7 separate regions of the Homo sapiens genome follow, and regions 1, 2, 4, 5, 6 and 7 are each reported to be linked to region 3. The links are microRNA targets in miRTarBase. Many come from high-throughput screens and were not tested one by one. Region 3 holds a microRNA gene; each other region holds the end of a gene's coding sequence.
What was found. Region 3 holds the annotated microRNA hsa-miR-5006-3p (UUUCCCUUUCCAUCCUGGCAG, at 1,704-1,724, shown strand). A microRNA usually pairs through its seed, bases 2 to 8, with sites in the 3' UTR of a target mRNA and lowers its output. Matches are read on the target gene's strand: a 7mer-m8 pairs with bases 2 to 8, a 7mer-A1 pairs with bases 2 to 7 and ends in A, and an 8mer does both.

Region 1: the mRNA of SKA2 is a reported target of hsa-miR-5006-3p. Seed matches in the 3' UTR shown: 7mer-A1 at 1,598-1,604.
Region 2: the mRNA of CDH4 is a reported target of hsa-miR-5006-3p. The part of its 3' UTR that is shown has no 7-base or 8-base seed match.
Region 4: miRTarBase lists TMEM156 as a target of hsa-miR-5006-3p. The part of its 3' UTR that is shown has no 7-base or 8-base seed match.
Region 5: the mRNA of SLC5A12 is a reported target of hsa-miR-5006-3p. Seed matches in the 3' UTR shown: 7mer-A1 at 1,267-1,273 and 7mer-A1 at 1,032-1,038.
Region 6: the mRNA of ARAP2 is a reported target of hsa-miR-5006-3p. Seed matches in the 3' UTR shown: 7mer-A1 at 2,103-2,109 and 7mer-m8 at 2,093-2,099.
Region 7: the mRNA of SYT6 is a reported target of hsa-miR-5006-3p. Seed matches in the 3' UTR shown: 8mer at 2,361-2,368.

Annotation. Positions count from the first base shown.
Region 1 is chr17:59,109,627-59,112,626 of GRCh38, forward strand. SKA2 (spindle and kinetochore associated complex subunit 2) reads right to left here. Exons shown (of 4, transcript NM_182620.4): 4 at 231-2,719. The coding sequence ends at 2,651. All of the region lies in intron 1 of LOC124904039 (a long non-coding RNA gene), which reads left to right. Among named protein-coding and RNA genes, the nearest start is that of TRIM37, 4.2 kb to the left of the region's middle.
Region 2 is chr20:61,936,596-61,939,740 of GRCh38, forward strand. It overlaps CDH4 (cadherin 4), which reads left to right. Exons shown (of 16, transcript NM_001794.5): 16 at 142-3,145. The coding sequence ends at 348. Among named protein-coding and RNA genes, the nearest start is that of MIR1257, 15 kb to the right of the region's middle.
Region 3 is chr13:41,566,895-41,570,029 of GRCh38, reverse strand. It overlaps MIR5006 (microRNA 5006), which reads left to right and starts at 1,635; the gene lies at 1,635-1,744. VWA8 (von Willebrand factor A domain containing 8) reads left to right here. Exons shown (of 45, transcript NM_015058.2): 45 at 1,725-3,135. The coding sequence ends at 1,833.
Region 4 is chr4:38,968,259-38,971,258 of GRCh38, reverse strand. It overlaps TMEM156 (transmembrane protein 156), which reads left to right. Exons shown (of 7, transcript NM_024943.3): 6 at 122-227. The coding sequence ends at 189. Among named protein-coding and RNA genes, the nearest start is that of TMEM156, 63 kb to the left of the region's middle.
Region 5 is chr11:26,668,220-26,671,364 of GRCh38, forward strand. SLC5A12 (solute carrier family 5 member 12) reads right to left here. Exons shown (of 15, transcript NM_178498.4): 15 at 1-3,032. The coding sequence ends at 2,883. Among named protein-coding and RNA genes, the nearest start is that of SLC5A12, 52 kb to the right of the region's middle.
Region 6 is chr4:36,065,348-36,068,347 of GRCh38, forward strand. ARAP2 (ArfGAP with RhoGAP domain, ankyrin repeat and PH domain 2) reads right to left here. Exons shown (of 33, transcript NM_015230.4): 33 at 657-2,931. The coding sequence ends at 2,560. It also overlaps the pseudogene LOC651644. Among named protein-coding and RNA genes, the nearest start is that of ARAP2, 180 kb to the right of the region's middle.
Region 7 is chr1:114,090,977-114,094,121 of GRCh38, reverse strand. It overlaps SYT6 (synaptotagmin 6), which reads left to right. Exons shown (of 8, transcript NM_001253772.2): 7 at 319-387; 8 at 2,040-3,145. The coding sequence ends at 336. Among named protein-coding and RNA genes, the nearest start is that of SYT6, 61 kb to the left of the region's middle. RefSeq lists an enhancer at 1,750-2,251.

The DNA of each region.
Region 1 (3,000 bases), not on the chromosome of region 3:
GGGACTACAGGCACGTGCCACCACACCCAGCTAATTTTTGTAATTTTAGTAGAGACAGGGTTTCACCATGTTGGCCAGGATGGTCTCCATCTTTTGACCTTGTGATCTGCCCGACTCGACCTCCCAAAGTGCTGGGATTACAGGCGTGAGCCACCATGCCCGGCCATGCCTGTGATTTTTAAATTCTTAAACATGTATTATTTATAACTTAAGACATAAAGACACTATAGTCACATAGGAGAAAACAATTATAATCCAAATGAGAAACAAAAGATCTAAATTAAGGAGGTGTGAAGATAATGTAGAGGTTGTATACTATGACCATTTTAGAAAGAGGATTGTAGGTTTTATTGACTAAGAAGATAAAGGGATGCAAATTAGTTATACAGGTTTTAATTCCAGACAACAGAATAGTGGCTATTAACAATAAAATCAGTAAGTATTCTGGACATGTTTAACTTGAATATTCAGGTAGGGGATTTTATTGGAAATACGGATCTAGAGCTAGTGGAAGAAGTTATATTTAGGAGTCATCCACAAAGAGGCTTGAGAAACAAATGAAAATGTATTGAGAAGTGCATAGAGAACAATGTTAAGGGGGCTGTGGGGAAAAAACAACATTTGGAAGATAACTGAAGGAAATCATAGAGGAAAAATAGTACAATCTAATTTTTCTCCCTAACTGAAAGCAAAACCACTTTTAATACTAAGAATTTATTATGATCTCTCCATGATACTACCGTTTTTTCAATCCCAACAATCATCATCACATCCCAGAGCCATCTCATGACAAGAGCTTTCTAAATACTAATTGCCTGAACACTGAAGAAAATTAATATCTGATACTAAGGTGTAACTTATTTCTCTGTAATTAAAAAAAAGGGGGCCAGGCACGGTAGCTCATGCCTGTAATCCCAGCACTTTGGGAGGCCGAGGTGGGTGGATCACCATCAGGAGTTAAAGACCAGCCTGGTCAAGATGGTGAAGCCCCATCTCTACTAAAAATACAAAAAAATAGCCGGGCGTGGTGGCGGGCGCCTGTAATCCCAGCTACTCGGGAGGGTGGGGCAGAGAACTGCTTGAACCTGGGAGGTGGAGGTTGCAGTGAGCTGAGAGCGTACCACTGCATTCCAGCCTGGGCAACAGAGTGAGACTCCGTCTCAAAAAAAAAAAAAAAAAAAAAAAGGCTTTCTGTTCTTGAAATATTCAAACTAGACAGGACAATTTTAACTGAAGCTGTTCTCACAACCCTGTTTTTCAGCTATTATAAGTTTGTTAATGGACAAACATGTTCATAACTGAAATTTTAAAATTACATAAAAGTATAATTCTATAACCTGCAGAACTAACATTTGATGCATTTTTCCTAGTCCTTTCAATGCTTAGTTTTTATTACATGTATGTAATATCACTTATTGAAGGCTTACTAAATACTGAACCCTGTATTAAAACACTTTCCTGTCTTGTCCTTCCAAACATCCTGACACTCAAAAGTTAAGTGATCTGCACAGGGTCATAGCTAGAATTTAAAAGCTGCTACTTACATCTCAGATATGACTCCAAAGCCCAATCTTCACTACAAAACTGCAATACCTGCTTTCCCTCTCCCCCACTTAGCATAGTTTCAGCATTTCCCAGAACATTAACAGTAATAATTTATTGGCAACTTGACCTCTTATTGTATACATACAGCATGATTTATTTTCCTATTCACCTAGTACTAGCCAAATGTGTATGTATATTGCTATTATAAACAACCCTGTGATTAACATCTTTCTATCAAGATCTGCCTCTACTTTGAACAGTTTCCTTATTGCCAATAGTTATTTTAAAATAAATAGTTATTTTAAAGGGAAATTGACACATACATATAACACACTCACGCAAAACTGGCAAGTAGCAGATAAGTGCTCTTCTAATTTCAGTTTCCTAGCTTTCATGTAGAATGAACAATTATAGTAATAAAGGCTGAAGGAAAACAAAGATATTATTGAGATACAACAGGGACAGTCTAAAACAGCATCAGAAAGCAAGTTCATGCTGTTCAACATTAGCAGGCAAGGGAAATAGGGAAAGAAATACGCAAACGTGGCTATCACAGAAAAGCCAGCTTATTACTTTAGGTTCTGTGGGAGACTACAGGTCACATAAAAGCAGTCTCAACAATAATGTGACCACATGTGCAATCAACATTTACAAAATGAAATTATATATCATGTATAACACAAATGTTTTGCCTATACTTTAATTTACAAAGCCACATACCGAATGACTGAAATGTACATAAACATTCTTTTATGATAGACCAGAACATCTATATTATCATGACTTAGAAAAAGAAAACAGATGCAAAATAGTGTTGAGAATTTCTGGCCTGAAATTACAAGACTAAGTGTGTGTGTGCATGCGTGTGTACATATATTTAAATCGTTTTATTCTCATTTGATCCTTTTGGCTGAACTTTATTCATATATTATCTGCCCTTCTTCTTATAATCTCTCTCATGAAAGATATCATTATCCAGTCATTGAAGCCAAACCCCCTTCACCAGCCCCCAATCTCTAGACATCAAGGGTTAACAAGACATCTTCCTAAATTTCTCCGGAATTAAGCTCTTCTCTGTTAGAATTTCCTTTCCAAGTCCATTTCTTCATAAATCTGGCATGTGAAATTTGAATTGCTCTGCCGCAGTTTTCTCTTCTTTAGTCAGTGGTGACAGCTAGAAAATAAATGATAAAATCTTTATTTCAAAAACTTTCAAAGACTTAAATCAGTTTAGTTAACTTCTGCATTGTCACACCAATAAATGTTTCCCTAAGCTTATACTATGTATGTAATCACAGATTTAGAAAGGCAAGGGAAAAAACAGATACTTGGCTATTTATATACAAGGTCCTATGATGTTTGAGCTTCTAAAGAACTTGCAATTAAGTTGAAGAAACAAGACCAAGAAATCAAACAATTTAAGGATTATAGCAGAACCAAAGAAGTCATGTTTGG
Region 2 (3,145 bases), not on the chromosome of region 3:
GCAGAGAGCCCTTATTGGACACCTACTTTATGCAACGTCCTACCTCCCTACCTCTTCTTCTGGGCCTCGCTTTCCGTTCCATCTGATCCCGGGGCTGAGACAACGCGTCCTGCACCCTAACTCTGTGTCTGTGACCCCCAGGGACTCCGCGCTGCTGACAACGACCCCACGGCACCCCCCTATGACTCCCTGCTGGTCTTCGACTACGAGGGGAGCGGCTCCACCGCAGGCTCCGTCAGCTCCCTGAACTCATCCAGTTCCGGGGACCAAGACTACGATTACCTCAACGACTGGGGGCCCAGATTCAAGAAGCTGGCGGACATGTATGGAGGTGGTGAAGAGGATTGACTGACCTCGCATCTTCGGACCGAAGTGAGAGCCGTGCTCGGACGCCGGAGGAGCAGGACTGAGCAGAGGCGGCCGGTCTTCCCGACTCCCTGCGGCTGTGTCCTTAGTGCTGTTAGGAGGCCCCCCAATCCCCACGTTGAGCTGTCTAGCATGAGCACCCACCCCCACAGCGCCCTGCACCCGGCCGCTGCCCAGCACCGCGCTGGCTGGCACTGAAGGACAGCAAGAGGCACTCTGTCTTCACTTGAATTTCCTAGAACAGAAGCACTGTTTTTAAAAAAAAAAAAAAAAAAAGAAGAAAGAAAGAAAAAAAAAAAAAAAAGAAAGTGCCTTTTGGTACATGTATCAGATTCCCTCAAACTCAGGAGTGTCTAAAGCAGACAGACCGTCCCCACCTTCCCATCCCGAGCGGCCTCCAACCCCAGCTAGTCCCAGCTCTGAAGGCATCATTCAGAAATGGGGGAGACTGTGTCTGTCTTTCTTACTTTTTTTTTGGTCTTTTATTAAGAAAAAGAAAGTGGGTGACTTGTTTGAAAACAGAGTGGGGTTCAAATCCCAGCAGCCTTTGCTGTACACAGCTGGGGGTCTCTTGAGCCTCTTGGGAGTCAAGGCCAGCTGGGAGGCTTAGCCCTTCAGCCCCAGCAGAAGGCCCTGGGGCTGGTGGGGCTCAGAATACCCCTACCTTGTGGCTGCTCCCCACCCCTCCCGGATGCTGTGAGGAGCTCAGGCAGGGGCCTGGAGGGGAACAGGGGTCATCCTGAAGGGGCTCCACCCCCAGTCAACCCAGGCCTCCCTCAGGGACACCTGTCACCCTGAGTGCCACCAGGTCCCCTCTGCCTTTGGTCCAGAAGAGTGAGTTGTCCAAACCAGCCAGCATCTGGCTCCAGCCCTCCAACCCTGGCGACCAGACCCCATGGGGTGCCATCAACGGCCCCGCGACAGGCATCAATTCAAACCCCAGGACACTCTCGACAGCTCCAACCATCCGGAGGGCTGTGCAGATGGCAGGAACCAAGGACCCTCCCTGGCAGCTGAAGAGGGCAGTTACGGTTGGGCGTGGTGACCAGAACACACCCAGCAGCCTGCGAAGCCTCCCCGTCCCCAGCCTGTGCTCCTGATTCCCGCCAGACGCTTGTGAGCCTGTGTGGGTGGCAGGAGGCCCCGTCTTGCCGTGCCTACCTGTCGCACAGATGCCTCTGCACGCTGCAGACGGTGCCTCTCCTCTCCTATGGACCCTCGTCGGGGGCAGGCAGCGGCCGGGTCCAAACTTGCTGCTGTCCTCGAGGCTGGCACTGCTATCTCCAGGGCTGGGTTGACTCAAGCCAGACAGGGGGAAGGAATTGGTTCTGCAGGACAGTGAGAGGGTCTGTGTCCCGGCACCCCTGGGACAGCGCTCGGCTGCCTGTGCTCACTGCATGAGAAAACTCAGAGGGTGCATTCTCCCTCTGGCATGGCTGTGTCTGGGCGCCTTGGGCTGCGGCAGGGGGCAGGCCCCACGTGGGGAAGCCTCGTGCTTGGTCAGCTTTCTGTCTCTCCCAGGCCAGTGACAACTGGCTTCCCGAGGAAGGAGGTGAGGTACCAGGGACCCTGGGCAGGACCTGGTGTCGGGCAGGGCGGTGCCAGCACTGGGGAAGGACAGGGAGCCCTCCCGGAGCCCCACCCTGCACCTGCCACTGGGGTCAGGGAGTGTCTCGGGGTGCCTTTGGGGGCAGCATGAGCTCCACCAGGGGCCCCGGCCCCCACCTCAGCCTATGGCCCTTCCCCATGGCTAAGGTCATGCCTTTTCTGAACAGCTTTGGCCTTGAGTGCACACATCTGTGCCAGGCTCACGGCATGTTCCCGTTGGATGTCAGGGTCCTTGTCCAAACCAAACTCACAGCTGCCCCTGTGCAGCCTTCAGAGTTGAGCTGGGGTCTCAGTCTCCAACCTGTCCTTTCTGACCCTCCCATGGCTGCCCAGGGAGGGCGGGGTTCACTGTGCCACGTGCTGGGTGCCCCCCTCTGCAGACAGCCAGTCCAGGAGATGGACCAACAGAGGTCAAGGGGCAGCTGGCCAGGCCGCACCGGGGTCCCCGAGTTCTGAGCTGTGCTATGCAAACAAGAATGCTCCTGTGTGGGGGGGCATGGCCGTTGGAGGTATAGCTGGGCGGGTAGTGGAAGGACTGGAAATCTCTGTTGTTGTTTGGGGAAGTCCATGCTTCAGTCCTTCGGAGTATGCGTGGATTGTTCGAAGTGTGACTATGGCCCGGGAGCCAGGGCAGCATGAACTCCTTTCTCTGAAATTTCGAGGCCTCCTTGGGTTCCCTGAACTCCGGGCTGATGTTCCCAGGACCCAGCACCAGGAGACCCCAGTCCCGCCAGCAGCCGCCGCTACCCAGGAGGGCTGGGCGACATTGGCCGCCTCCCACTAGCTCCCCCTCCTCGCCCACAGCCTCTTGTCACTGCCAAGCCCCCGTTCCTTTTGCCCAAATCACGCAGGCGGAAGCTGCAGTGCCAGCTGGAGGGATGTTCATAGGGCTTCCTGTGCCCATCCCTGCTCCAAACAGCTGGACAGCTTCCCCTCTACCCCCACCCTGGTGAGCCCCTGGGGGCCAGAGAAAGATGGGGTTCCTGCACCTTCCCAGCTCCACCTCTGAACTTGAGTTAGCGTTAGCTAAGCATACAATCAGTGTCGAACGTCTCTCTTCCTTAAGCTTGTAGATACGACTGCCTATAATCAGGGGACTCCCACTGGAGGCCGGGAGGCCAATGCTGGCCAGGTGCGAGGGCATGGTTTGGTTCCTTTAGGGAATTTTTGT
Region 3 (3,135 bases):
CACATATGTATTATATCCCCATAGAGACATCACCTACATATATGCATGCCTGTATATATATATAGACACACTCACATGTATCCCTTCTTATTGCTGGAGAGACAAGGCAGGTGAAACACTTGGCGACAACATAAGATAATATACATATAGTTAGATACTACACTGAATATACTAAATATTCAATAGAGAATCTTATGATCAGACAATAAATACCAGTGGGTATGATCTGAAAGGAGAGATCTGGAAACACTTTCATAACTTGAACACAATAACATTTATCTTTTTGAATTACAAACAGAAAGAGCTCATGGTTTTTCTGTGTTTAAAATACCTGTAAGAAACATAAAACACCAGTGAAAGTAATCTTAAAAAAAAAAAAAAAAATCCCTGCCTAAAGCACAAAGGGCCTACGTTTTTGTTATTCCACCCCTTTTACTTTTCATACTCTGTGACTGGAAATGTTTTAATATCCAAAATGCTAGCAGCTTTTTCTCTTTCTATTCCCTTTGCCTTGCTGTAAGGTTGCAGAGCGAGGTTGAGAACAGACTTAATATCATGTAGTTACAGTCATTTTATGACATGACTTTTCATTCTTCTTAGTTTTTACAAGTTAGCACTTTGCATCTTTTAGAACCTCCACATCCTCAAACACAAACTATGCCTTTTCCACCCAGGTTTTCCTCAGCATCAGCCCAGTATTAGGCAGACAACAAGCTCAACAAATACTAGTTGAGATGAAATGGCTATTTTGTCTTTCTAGTGAACAGATCCTGTTTGAATACTTAAGAAAGCACAATAATACCCTTGTGGTTTCCTAGGGAAATGGTCCAACATCCACTGGCAAAAGATATGTTGCAGAATTAGCTGGCTTACCAGGCATGCCAAATATACGATACTACACAGGATGGTTGAATTTTATTAAATGTCATTCCAAAGCCAGACTTCACTGGCACAGTGAAAGGAGGCGTTCTTTTGAAGAGAACTGTGTCTTACAGTTTTGTTGCCTTCAAAATGGCCTTTTGTTCCAAATTATAAATTAGTATTTAAAAAAGTATCGTAACTTCAATGACATGTTATTTTTAAGGATAATTCAAATCAAAACCCATTATAAGTTTTTTAAAATTCACTTAAAAATGAGTTGGAAAAAATTTCATAAGCCTGTATAACCTCAGTGTCATTGAAGCAGTAATTGGACAATCCAGATCGCATTTCACATTGTGTGATGTGGACCAAAAAAAAGAGAGAGAGGCAAAGAAAGAGAGAAAGAACCACTCAGGGTTTGGCTGCGCAGCGTTTTTAGAGGCCTGTTTTCTAAGGAAGGAAAAGCACTTCGAAATACAGTGTAAGGTCAACATATTTGCTAGACCCGGGAGGTGAGCTGATTCCATATGAATCCCTATGGCTCTGTTATACCAAAAGAATATGAAATACCAAGAAATGGCAGTAAAGAAAGGAAGAAAATTTTTTCTTTTCAAATTCACTGACTTTCTCACTGAAAAGACCTTTCTTTCAGTTCCCTGCTTTTGCTGTGTCTTTCCTTGTTGCTCTTCCAAGCCTTTCATTGTTTAATGACGACTAATTCAATGGTAGGCAGAGAGCAAGGTATTAGAAAGTAAAAACTTCCTTTCCTAAGAAACCATTAGGGGGCTGTGGTTTGCCAGGGCAGGAGGTGGAAGGGAGCCCCATTTACAGTGGTAACTTCCTTTCCCTTTCCATCCTGGCAGGCTTCAGAGAACTTTACCAGCTGGTCGGTCTTTCGTTGCCATGGATACCAAGGATATCCCTCAGATTTTACAACAGATCTTCACCTCCACCATGTTGTCGAGTGTCTAAGAAGTGCCCTTCATCACCCTGATGACACCAGGATTTGAAATAAGACAGGAATAAAGAGTATTCTGAAAAAAAGAAGATATGGATGAAGTGAACCCATGCAGTGACTGGATGATTCCGGCATTCCTGGGTCTTCCTACACTTGCTCCGTAATGAGAATTCAGAGAAGCAGCCAGAAGGAGACTTAAACATGGAAAGATACTCCACTGATGAGTTTAGAAGTGATTAGGGCAAGCTAGTTGACCTGCACTTTATCAAAGGTTGGGGTTAAAGGAAGGTGGTTTTGAGAACTATGTGTTTGGTCTATTTCCAAAAACCTGAGGGGGAGAAAATACTTTGCTTTTGCCTTAACACATCATCTGGTCACGTTAGAAAAGTGACCCCATCAAACTGAGCCTTTGATGTCACATTCTGACACAAGATGCAAGTCTGTGCAAAACCCACCAAAATGCTCCTATCCAACAATTATTTTTATTTTCTCCCTGCTCTGTATTGACCAGAAAACAATGATTTTATAATATTTAACCCACCAAAAAGTCCCTCCAACAGCAATATCTTATGAAAGTCTGGCTGTTCTCAATAATTTCATTTTCTTGGCCAAAGCCAAAAGGAATCAAAAAATCCTTGGAGTGCTTGCCTTTCCACGTGACTTTTAAAAGGCTCTTAAAGAGCAAATGTCCTCTTCTCCTTGCTGCTAGAGTGGGAGGAGAAAGATGTCTTGCCTTAAAAGTTTACTGTTTCTTCTGTTCTTCTAGCATCTCTCAAAAAATTCACAGTACTCCATTTTGGGGTCCAAACTGTAATGCTCAAAATAATAAATGCTTACACGAAAATTATTTATTGAGAATATTCATATAAAAATTACCTAAAGCAAAGTAAAAAAAGTAAAATCAAGGTGGTATATTTGAAGTGAATGGTGATTGGAAATTTTTAGCTGTAACAAAAAGAAAGAAAACAACTTTTTTTAAAGCCTCATTCTCTTTTCTTTCAAAATGTACCTTATTCCCACACACTCTTGGGCTGACCTTTATTTTATCAATAAGCTCAATATTACTTTGTTTAAAATAAGATGCTTCAGCAAAAGTCATTCTCTCTTTAACCATATAATTTAAAAACTCCTCTTCACGATTGATAGCAAAATCAGAAACGTTAGGGCACCAGTGAGTTGAAAAAACTGGTCTTAAGTTGGAAAAACTATTATTAATAATATTATCCTATCCATCCATATCTATTGAAATTGTACAGGTCCATAATTTCATTTTAATTAATTATAGGAAAGAAGAAAAGATAATACCCATTTGTTCT
Region 4 (3,000 bases), not on the chromosome of region 3:
TCCCAAAATCCTTTCTAGAGGTAGAGCATGCTTCTCTTGCTACTCTTACTACATTAGAATAAGCCTGTCTCTTTTTGCTATTTACTACATATAGACTAAAACAGTTCTCCTTCTTAAATAGCAGAGACCACGCAGAGGCTGCCTTTGGATCAAGTCCAGGAAGTGCTTCCCCCAATTCCAGAACTATAAGTTACTTCCACAGTGCATCAGTGAGATCAATATACACGGTGAGTGATGATTCGGCTTTATCGACTTCTTCATTATAAACACAGATAAATTCAAGGATGCACAGTTGATCCCAAACTCCATTTCTATCTGGTAGGAGGTAGAAAATGATGAATTTGCAAAGTCAGTTCATATGAATTAGATGACATGAAATAAAATGACTATTTTCTCTAAGATCTAGGAAGGATCAGTAGATGGATCTCTTAGTCTGTTAAACTAATCTGTTAGTCTTTTAAACTGCTCCTGAGATGATAGCTTATCCCTTGGCCCTGTTTTTCCGGAGTTGAGCCATAACTTAGTTAGACTATGAGAAAATAGAGAATGAGATGTGTAAAGCAAACTGCCTCCTCCACAATTATTGAAATAAAAACTTCTCTAAATGTAACATCTGATAATCTAAATTAATGCATATTGATTTCCATGAATTTAAGTCTAAAAGTATGGTCAAAAGTGTTGAAATTTTTTTTTATTCATTCATCAAATCTTTCTTAAGTAGCAATTATGTTAAAGGCACTAGGAATAGCCATTGTAGGGGGTATAAAAATTATAACAGGGAAGGGGAGGGAAACTAGCATTTATAAGCATCCCACTTATTGTGCTTTGTGGTAATTGGTTATATCATTTACTCTTCAGAATACGTGGGTGGTTTTTCAGTCAAGGTCCTATCAGGAAATTGATATTGCACTCAAATTGAATAATTTGAGATTAGTTTAATGAAGGGCATATTAAACTAGGGTGTGGGAAAACTAAAAGGGAGAATGCAGCACCCTGAGACTAGGAAGAGTGGGGCCCTGCTACTGTCTTTAAGACTAAAGGGGAAAGAAACCCAGAGAGACAGAGACAGAGACAGACATGCATGCATGTATACACACACACACACACACACAAACACACACACACAGTGTGTGAGGAGGGCTGTCCTACAGGAGCTGTGACATTTGGTCAAGGGACACTATAGCCTGGGGTCACCCTGAAAAGAGAGAATAACTATCCTAACTTTGGGAACTCTTTTACACTGTTGGTAGGAAGAGTATAGCCACTACAGAAAACAGTAGGATATTTCTCAAAAAACTTAAAATAGAACTACTCTTCCATTCAGCAATCCCGCTACTGGGTATCTACCCAAAGGAAAATAAATCACCTCAGGGTGTGGTGGCTCACATCTGTAATCCCAGCACTTTGGGAGGCTGAGGTGGGCAGGTTGCTGGAGCTCAGGGGTTCGAGACCAGCCTGAGCAACATGGTGAAACCCTGTCTCTACAAAAAATACAAAAATTAGCCAGGCGTGGTGACACGTGTCTGAAATCCCAGCTACTGGGGAGGCTGAGGCAGGAAGATCACTTGAGCCTGGGAAGTTGAGGCTGCAGTGAGCTGTGTTCATGCCATGCCACTGCGCTCTAGCTTGGGAGACAAAATGAGACCATGTCTTAAAAAACAAAAAAAGAAAGAAACGGAAAAAGAAAATAAATCACTATAGCAAAGGGATACCTATACTCACATGTTTATTGTAGCACTATTCACAATAGCAAAGATATGGAATGGACCTAAGTGCCCATCAACAGGTGAATGGATAAACAAATGTGGTGCATATATACAATGAAATATTTGCCATAAAAAATGAAATCGTGCCATATGCAGCAACTTGGATGGGACTGGAGGTCATTATCTCAAGTGAAGTAAGCCACGGACAAAAAGGCAAATATCACATGTTCTCCACTTGTAGGTGAGAGCTAAAAAAGTTGATCACATGGAAGTAGAGTGGAAAGATAGAGAACAGAGACTGGGAAAGGTAAGTTGTGGGGAGAGGATGAAGGGAAATGGATTAAAGTGAAGGGAAATGGGTTAAAGGGTACAAATGTACAGTCAGATAGAAGGAATACATTGAATGTGTGAAAGCACAGTAGCGTGACTATAATTACACAAAAATGTATTGTACTTGGGCGACAGATATCCTAAGTATTCTGACTTGATCACTAATCACTATGCATTATATACATAGAACAAAAGTTAACAGGTACCCCATAAATTTGTACAAACAAACCCCAACTTTGCCATCATCTCTTCCTCTAATGTGCTAGTACTCCCCCATTGACCAAACCCAGCCAGAGCCAGAGGGCACTGGAGCCCAGCGGAGGCAGTTATGTAAGTTGGCCTCCCAGGGCACCAAGTAGGGTGGAAACGAGTGGAGGGCAGATTGGGAGAGGCAGCCAAAGGGATCCAGCGTCGATGGCTCAATACGCCAAATTGAAACTTAGTGCCAAGAATCTGTCTGTGTTCAAGGTTAAAGAGAGGCAGGTCTTAGTACTTTGGGTCTCAGTGCAACCAGGGTCTGCTGTTGGCTCAGAAATTCCTAAGTAGCATATAGTGTAGTCATATGATTGTGTCAATGAAATATTACTGGATATTATTATGCTCGAGACCTCTCATTCTGGTTGTTCATTCTGGGATGCTTATCTTTGCATCTGAAGAGTTCCTCTTTCTTTGTTCATTCACCAAATGATTTTTGACCACCTACTGTATGTTGAGAATCCTACTCATTGGCAAAAACAACAATGTAGTCAATGGAGGAGTCAGATTAGAGAAGCCCTAATTCCAATAAAGACTCAAGTAACATGATAAAGGTGTTCACATGTGAAGAGAGGGACTTGGGGAGCACGATAGAGAGACTCCTCCTTCAGAGGACATGATGCCTAGCGTTTAGATGTTCAATAAGGATTTGTTGAGTAAATGAATAAATCCCAATTTCTATGTCTCTGTGTTAGAATCATGGAATGTT
Region 5 (3,145 bases), not on the chromosome of region 3:
CTGTCATCAAAATGAATTCATACAGAATGAGTTAAAGAGGTATTGAGGTAATTCTGTTCCATTTTTACCAATATCTGTGGTTGTGCTTTAAAGGTACAGTGGTGAGTATCAAGTTTGGAACATTTTAGGCCCCTCTAAAACTCATCATTCCTAGTGCCATTTATTGAGAATGTCTCTGGTCATGCTGTGGCAAAAACAGCCACAAGTTTAACCCTCTTCCATGGTATGGATGGAACTTGTCACTGAACTGTCTTTGTACTGCACCAGTGGCCTTGGCATGACTCTGGGCTGCTAATCCTAGTGAGGGCCTGAAAGGAGTGCTGGGACTCACTAGCTGAATCTATTGACTGTGCGCTTCATAGTTTCCTTTTGCTTCACCACACAACAAACACGGTTTTCATACACTATGGAAGACAGTTTCCTGTAGATTCCCATCTGCTCTCTACCTGAAACCCTAGATTTATGCATGTTTGTTCAATTAAGAAGAATGGGGGGAGTCTCTACATTGACCTCTAAAATCTCTTGAAATGTCATCTCCTAATGCCATAAATTTCATTACACAAGAGAAGGCAGAGATATTTTTATAATAATAATTGCATTTTCCAGTTGTATGACATTTTGATAACACTCCAGGTAAGATAATTAGGGACTATAAAAGAAGAAACGTTTTTAAAACTTTCTCGGAAATGTACTGACCTAGTGAAATGTCTTTAGGAGAATTTGTGAGTAAAATTTGTGAGTAAAATGAAAAATTGTATGGTATATTTTGCTTTTATGCTATCCCAAGTGGAAGTTCACAATCCTGATGTATTCCAAATCATATTTACATATATATGTGTACAGATATATATATGTATATGCATATGTAATACCTACCATTAATTTATTCTCATCCTCAGAATTGCTGTTTTTTTATTCTTTCTGTCTCTCTCTTCCTCTTCCTGTCTTTTTCTTTCTTTCTTTCTTCTTTTCTTTCTTTCTTTCTTTCTTTCTTTCTTTCTCTCTCTCCCTCCCTCTTTCTTTCTCTCTTCTTTCCCTAAGATATTAATAAAGCTAACTAGTTTTGGCTCAGATTTCAATATTCACAAAATATATATTCTAATTAATAAGAGTGTCACAAATCATTTGGAAAATAATTGCACCTCTCAATTTGCAAATCCTTAGATCAACAGCTTAATTAGCGTTGCCAGACTTTAAAAAATGTTTCCAAAAATTCTGCTCCTTCTCATTTTCAGATATTTCTCCAAATGTGACCCCTTTTGACCCTTTCCCTCTATTCCCAAATGTATTTTTTTCTCATCTCTCTTATAAACTGTAGCCTAATACCTTCTTTCTCTTTCTCCATTCTCCTTTTCTATTTGAGTGGAGGGAGAGAAGGCAAGGATTGGGCTCTGTTTTATAAACTCCAGTTTCTCTGTTTTAATTCCTCCACTGATTTGTCTGTCTTTCTATCTTTTCTAATAATAAATACTGGTAATTTATTTTTTCTCTATTGTATGCTTCTTTCAAGGCTTTCTCTTTTGAGAAATATTTAAAGACAACCTTTGGATTTCCTTATCCTTGCCTATTTGGACCATTTCTTCTTACTTTGCTAACACACTGTTTCTAGGCCTTTTGCTTTTATCTGGCCACCAAAATAAATATCTGACACCTGTCCTAATATATGACTCTCAGATACAACTTTGTTTCTTATTATCTGTCCTCTGACTTGGCCCCTGTGACATACTGGTTCTTTCTTTTACCTTTTCAGAATTTCACTTCTTCACTTCTTCCAAAAATCTTTCACTGCTCCTTCATTTGTCAACTCGCCTTTTAATCTGCAATACCCTCATTCTCCAGAACTTTAAACATTATTTTCTAGACACGAACTATGAAGTTCTCCACTTCTGTTACCTAACCCAGGTGGAGTGAGTTGAGCTTGCTCACATGAGTTGAATGAGCAGAGTACAAGTCTTATGGACAATGTATTTTCTCCAAAGAAGAATCCTATTGCTGATGAAATCTCCTATGGTCTGTTACAATATTTGCAACGTTCTTTTACCAAATTCTATCCTAACAACCTTCTATAGGACATTCCTTTTCTCTTTCCTTAGCCCTGGAAAAAGGCTCTAGACTTCTTATTGAGCTCTGAGGCAATTTTTCATTGTAAAGTGATAGAAAGGAAGAAGACATACTGCATGGACAGCACAAAAGGAGCAAAGTTTTTAGTTATAATCACTCCCACTAGCCAGACATACCATCTTCTTCTGTATTTAGCTGAATTTTTTTTTTAATGTTTGGTCAGGACAGCTAATGACTGGAATGACTGGAAGAGGACCTGACAGTGGTGGTGAAGGGAGGTTAATAGTAGTTGTATGCCAATTGTAGCTACAGGATGGGAGATGGGTGGCATAAAATATATCTACATGTATGTCAGGTATGAGGTCAGGGGTGGATGTCATTCCTCTATTTTATCCCTCGTGGCAGGAAAGTGTTAAATATGCATATTTCTGTTTCCCGTTCTGCCTCTAAACTCCAAGATATTTTGATGGTTAAAAAACTACTAAAACGAAAAACCTGAAGTTTAATATGACACCAAGCAAAAAGACTTCGCTTTCTTGAATGGTAATGAAATCCAGCCCTAATTTATTCAAGAAGGAAGTAGTCAAGGGCATTTGGAGCAGGTTGGTTTTTCTCTGTGAAAGTTGGAGTCTTTCAAAGAATATCCCGAGAGACAGTCATTTTGCATGTAGTTATAAATAAGTAGAAATAGGCACCAGACATCCCTGTCTTCTAGCAATGGCAACTATACATATCTACTAACAAGTAGGCAAGAAGTATGTGGAGTTTGTGTGTGTGTGTGTGTATTGCACGTGTGTGTGTGCATTCATACAGGTATTGCCTTAGAAATGGGTAGTCTCAAATGCCATATTGTTGTAGCTTTTGTCCTTAGGATCATAGCCTGGAACATGTACCAGGCTTTCTCTTCTGAGTCCGTTCTGTAAGACAGATTCAGCCCCCTGTTTCCGGGCACTGCCATTCTCAAGGTTTTCCTGAGGGAAATACAAAGACACATATTAGCAAGATATCCTTGATGTACTCCAAATTAACCTGAGAGAATCTTGTTTAGGCCTTGGCTTCAAAAAATTATATATATGTACAAAAG
Region 6 (3,000 bases), not on the chromosome of region 3:
AAAGTAGGCCAGGCCCTTCTTCTCATAGTGCCAGGGCCCCAGGAATGGCTTCTCACACTCAGGGAAAAGAGCTCTGCATGCCACCACTCTTTGCCCAGTGTATTCACTATGTGGCCTTTGATGGGCTGGCTGCAGTCCCTAGAAATGGGGACAGCATCTTGTCAATGCAGGGCAGGCAGTAGAGTTCACCCTTCAGCTCATGGGCCTCACCAGTCAGCTCCTTCCTACAGTGGATGCAGCTGAAGTGGCCTGGGTGACAGGCACTGTTCCTGAACATGAGGGACTGCTCATGAATGACCAAGTGGCACTGCTGAGGTGCCAGACACTTGTGCCAGTCCCTTGGCCTTCTCATGGTGTGGCAAGGCTGGCAGAGATGCCTATAAACCAGGGGTGGTACTATGCATCTTGTAGGGATGTGGCTGGTCAGCAGCTTCTCGTCAATACAGGCCACAGAGCCTGTAATTGTGCCTGGTTCTCAGCAAGTGGGTCTTTAAATAAATAAAGCTACTTACAGTGACCTGTTTGGAAAAACAATACAGCCAGTTTGAAGTATATATTAAATTCAAATTTTTTTAAAAAGAAAAGAAAGCTAATCTATTTGATCTATTTCACAATAACAACCTTCAACTTCTGAAAATAATAAAGTCACATTCAAGTAGACTTGTAAAACAATTTTAATGTTTACTCAAAATAAATGAGATGTCATCATTAGCCCTTATCTCTCACACTTGAAAAATGGAGACAGTTGTTCAGAATAGAAAGGGAAACAGCTATTAGAGTTTAAGCTCAAGTTTCAAGAAGAATTCAGATAAGGCAGGTAAAAACTCTAGATACTTTTCCACTGTCCAACATCACCAAATATTAATTTCCACATACCTCTTTATTTCATAAAAATATAAATATTTATTAGAAATAGTATGTTTAAGATTAGTTTTTCTTTCTAAATAACATGATTTCTTGCTTTAAAGGAAGATTCCCTAATAGTGCCACCTATTTCATAAACTGTCCTGCAGTTTTGTGCTTTTTAAAAATTCTAATTTACTTTGATTTAAAGAATAAATATCTCATACCCATGGTGAACTATTTTATCACCCCAAAATACAAATGATCCGTATTTTACAATGAAGAAATTCATAGCATCTACCACCACATCACTGTACTATGATTGGACTGACTGAAGTATGGGCCTGTGAATATAGATTGAAAAATAAAAAAGAAATGCTAAAAAAAAAAAACTTAGCTACATAATGTTTAATATCAAAACTCACCAGACAATCCAATTTTAAAGAAACTGATGGAAAAATGCTTCCCCTAACATGAACTATGGTTAGATAGCATTGTCTGTCAGGAAATTCACCAATTCAGTAGCTGATCTTTATGTGGAAACAAAAATAGGGCTTTGTCCTTATTCATAAGTACAGGGAAGAGACCACACCTTTACTTAAAAAAAGAAAAAAAAACCTAGATTAAATGTGACCAGGTAGCCCCCAAATGTATAGTAAACCACCAACTAGCCCCTGGCTCCATAATGGCCATATATTGTATTCTTCCAGTTATTTCTGACAACTCGGAGAAAAACATTACAACCTTAATAATAATTTAAAAAAATCTAAAAATCAAACAAAACAACAGGACCCTGTGGTGATGAATTTTGTTCGTACCAAAAGTATAGTCAGAAATTCTGAAAAAAGACAAAATGCTTGCATACAATGACAGTGCAATCAGCATCCAGGCCAGGTCCTGTGTACACAACCTCTCCAATGCAGTGTAAGTTTCCTCTTAGCAGCCACCAACAATGAGCTCAAACGTAGTGAATCTGTAATGTGGCTGGTTTTCTAACACTATAAATATTAATAAGAGTGGCTAGTGCTATTATTTACATCTGTTGGCCGAATATTACTCTTGAGAAATAAACACTGGACTTTTTCTTAACAAGTGGTTTCTCATTGACAAGTTCTGGTCATTAGTGAACTAGAATGAATCTTAGCTCACTTCCTTGTTTTGCAGGACATTTAACTCCTTGCTTCTTTTAAAAACTCCAGTGGTTTTTAGGCAGCCACTACAATAAATTCTCCCCCCTTTTTCAATTTACTTCCCTTTCTTTTCCCTAAGGTAGAACTTCTGTAAACCTAAAAACATATGGTAATTTAATATACAAGGTTTCTCAAAGTGCAAAATATGTTACAGATAGTTTCTTAGGCTTCATTTAAACACAGCATTTTATACAATACAGTACAGTTTGAGATTTCTGCTCATAAATTATACCACTTAACAGACAACTACTTTAAAAGGACTGACCACCTAAGTAACCCAATGTCTTCTTACACACGTTAATACAATGGAACTTTACAAGGTTTGTTCAGACCAAAATAAAGTTAATCTTACATTCAGTCACATATATACATATTTTTAAATGCTCCTTAAATGCCTAAGCATAGACAAATTTGCCTATCAATAGGCAAATTCTTATGAATTATCTTATAGTTCAGTTTTGGAGTTACACATAAAGATTGCATACAATATTAAAAAAATAATCTGGGGAGCAATTCATTTTATTTCCTACTTCAAAATCTGCTCATCCTGTAATTCTTTTGGAAGGGTTCTTGACCGTTGTAGAACCACATTAAGTTCTTCAATTACCCTTGATGGTAACTTATGATCAGAGTCCAAAGTAGCTTTGCTATTCCTGTCCTCAGTCTTCCTCAATGTCTTTAGGCCTTTATGGCCTTTTGGTTGCCCAAGTGGGGCTTCAGGCTCTGTGTCCTCCAGGCAGTTGAAACTCCGATGTTTTCGGGGTCGATTTCGAAGTTTATCGTCCTTGTGCTCCAGGCAGTGGGCCACCATGGAAGCTCTCTCCTTTAAGCTAGAGTCCACGGACTCTTTATCACACTTTTCACTGAGCCGCAGCCTTTCAAGTTCTGCTCTTGCACTCTAAAAATAAAATTAAATGTCTCACAGGGAAGCAAGATTTGGCACAATTTAGGTTTAGAAAGTGCAATC
Region 7 (3,145 bases), not on the chromosome of region 3:
CCCTGCTACTACTCTTTGGGCTGTTACATAAAGGAAGAAAGACACTCTGTGTAGTCCTTTTATGTTTTCTCCTCTGACCTGGCCTATCAGTCAGGTTGTTTAAGTGGCATGCTTACTCAGGGAAGAAGCCAGTGATTATAATGTACCTTTCACCAACAGTAAAGGTTGTAACAGAAAAGTAGAACTCCTAAAATGAAGGTCTGTTAAATAAGAGCATTAGTAATCATGTGTTGTCACCTTCTGGTTAAGAAACACTTGAGTCAGAAGCCACAGTGGCCTCAACAACCAGGCATTTATTTATCTAAAATATTTCACCAGGGAAACCCTCGGTTGTGATTTCATTCACGTGGATGCTGCAAGCAGAGAGACTGCCACCTGGAGTTAGGAGTAAGTACCTGGTGTGGACCCAAAGACGTTAGGTTGCTTATTACCTTTTGTCTCCTTCTTCCCCTAGTGTGGCCAGATGCTGAGATAGCAGCAGGATGGAGTGGAAAGAACACTTGGTTGGGTGTTAGGAGACCTGGTTTCGGGTTCTGGCTCTGCCCCTAGCTAGCTGTGTCTTGACTTCTCTGTCTTTGTTTTCTTATTTGCGAGAACAAGAAGGTTAGACTGGATCAGCTTCCAAGCCTGCCTCCAGTGCTGACATGCTAAGATTGCTTAGGTCTAGGTCACATAATGGTGGTCATCGGTACCTGATTGTCTGGCCTTTGGTTAGTCATAAAGATCTTCAGCTGGCCTGAACAGGGAGTCCTAAGAAGCCCATGAAGAACCGAGCCCAGAGAAGGGTAACAGAAGCTTTCCTTAGAATTGAAAGCATTAAGGTAGTTTAGTAGGTCTGGGTCCTTCCTGAACTTCATGGGTTTCCCATCTACTCCGCAGGTGATGCTGGATAGAAAGTGATCTATTCCTCAGGTGGCTCGGCCCTTCTAGGAATGGCTGTATTGAGGGAGAACCACATCCTCCCCCGACCCCAAACCTCCATGTATGCATGATGCATAGTAGCAGCTTCTACTCAGCCCCCTCACTCCATAGTGGAGACCCTCAACGCTCATGAGAAGCAGAAGGGGCTGCACTTCCAGGTCAGGAAGGCCATCTTGACCACCTACCTACCTCTTAACTCTGGAGCTCTGTCCTGCAGACACCCAGGACAGTACTGGGTCTCTTCAGCCCACTCCAAGGATGGGTGAGCAGTGGACACTGACTCACTTTGAAGTTATTAACATAAAGCCCCCAGGCAGGTCAAGAATATTCATGGGGTCAGATCTTTGCTCAGTAAATATTGCTGGGGTTATGACTGCTGCAGCGATGACTGGTTAAAGAAGGATTGAATGGTTCAAGTCCACCCAGCCTCAGCCCTGTCCTTCACTCCATTACGCCTCATTACATCACCCCTTTCACAGAAGGGTTAGAGTCAGGCTGATAGGAGGCAGTCTGTGACCTAGGAGAACTGGGGAGGAGAAAGGGGTTGCAGAAGCCCAGAAGGGTCTGCTCACACCTCTACCTCTCCACAAGTCAGGTGCAAATGCCCATAGGAAGAATGAAAAACAAAGGAGACAGCTCAAAGCTAAAGCAGTATCAGATTTTTAGCTGTACTGTCAGCTCCCAGACAAATTGCTAATAATGCATGACCATGGGTTCTTGGCAGTAAGGACATATTCTGCACACTGCCTCTTTCGCTGCTAACATAATATGATTTTCAGTGTGAAAAATGGCTGAAGCACACAGAAATGGCCCAGTCAGAGCACCTCATTCTCACACACACACACACACACACACACACACAGAGAGAGAGAGAGAGAGAGAGAGAGAGTTAAGAAAGCTTTAATTATCTCTGCAGTAGGTCTTTTTGAAAATCAGGTATTCCAAACTAGAAGCTCTAAGCTGTTTCCCTTATGTTTTTGCATGGCTGACAGCAAAATTCAAGAAAGCTTATGAGAAGCTAGGAAAGGTGAATTCAGTGCATTGGGCCAGTTCAGTTTTGCAAGTTGAAATGTAAATTCCTTTAGCAATTAATAAACAGATTGTTCTCCTCTTTGCAGTGGCAGGGCCGAGCTGCTAGCTTCGACAGTGAGAGCTCGTGCCCATCTCCGAAACCACCTCCAACACCATGAGATGTGCAGCCAAATAACACAAATGGGACTCAGCAATGTTCTCTTTGCACTTGTTCAACCGTCTAAACAGTGTTGTGCAGTCGCAGTGGCGGCAGCAGCGGCAGCCGTCCGTCACTCCAGAGTCTTACCTGCTCCTGTGTAGGTCAAAGCTGAGACACTTGTCATGTGGTCAGATCTGTCTTAGTCTTTTGTGTCTCCCAAGGTGATGTTTTTGTGGTTTTTCACTTTTTATGGGTCTGCTGGTAAGAAAAGGGAAAAAAAAAAAGAGTAGGAAAAGACAAAGGGTGGAAAGCCCAGAAGTTGGTTCTAGAAAATACAAGGTACAGTTTTTTGGAAAGAGGTGGATTGAGTTTCTGAAATGCTGCGTCTCCAGCAAGCTCCACAACCCTGGAAAAGGAGGAGGCGTGGTGGGACTGCGGCTGCATTTTCAGTGCCCTGCAGGAATGGGGTGAATCCATGGAAGAGCCTTTGTGAGGTGAATTACTAGTCTTTGAAGCTCTTCGCTGGCAGGACATAAACCACGCTGGGACCCTCAGTCCCGTGTTGAAATCACAAGACCTCTGAGGCGCTTGTGAGCCTTCAGCTGATGTGCAGGGTTCCTCGCTCCCCTTCCTCGCTGGCTTTCCCCATGAATTGAAAACGTCTTGATTCCTCATGGGAACTTAGTCACTTTCTTTAGGAATGATTCAGTTCAGCCGAAACTAAACACGCCATATGTTTTCTGATGCGCCACAGTTAATGATCACATTTGTTTGAAAACAGGATCTTTGTCCTCAGAAATAATCTTGATTGTAAAGTAAGAGAGAAACATATGTTCTGGAATGATTTCTGCATTATACATAGCTTTATAATTCCATGAAGTATCAAGCTGCTGTTTAAAATGCCTAAACAGATTAAAGAAAAACCTAGATTAAATGTTCTTTTCCAAATGGGGAGTTTTGAAATCCAAATAGCAGTTTGAGTCCATCTTTCTATGAAGAGTATGTTTTTGATTGAAACCGAGTCAGCGTAAGCCTATTTCAGCCCCTTTGGCT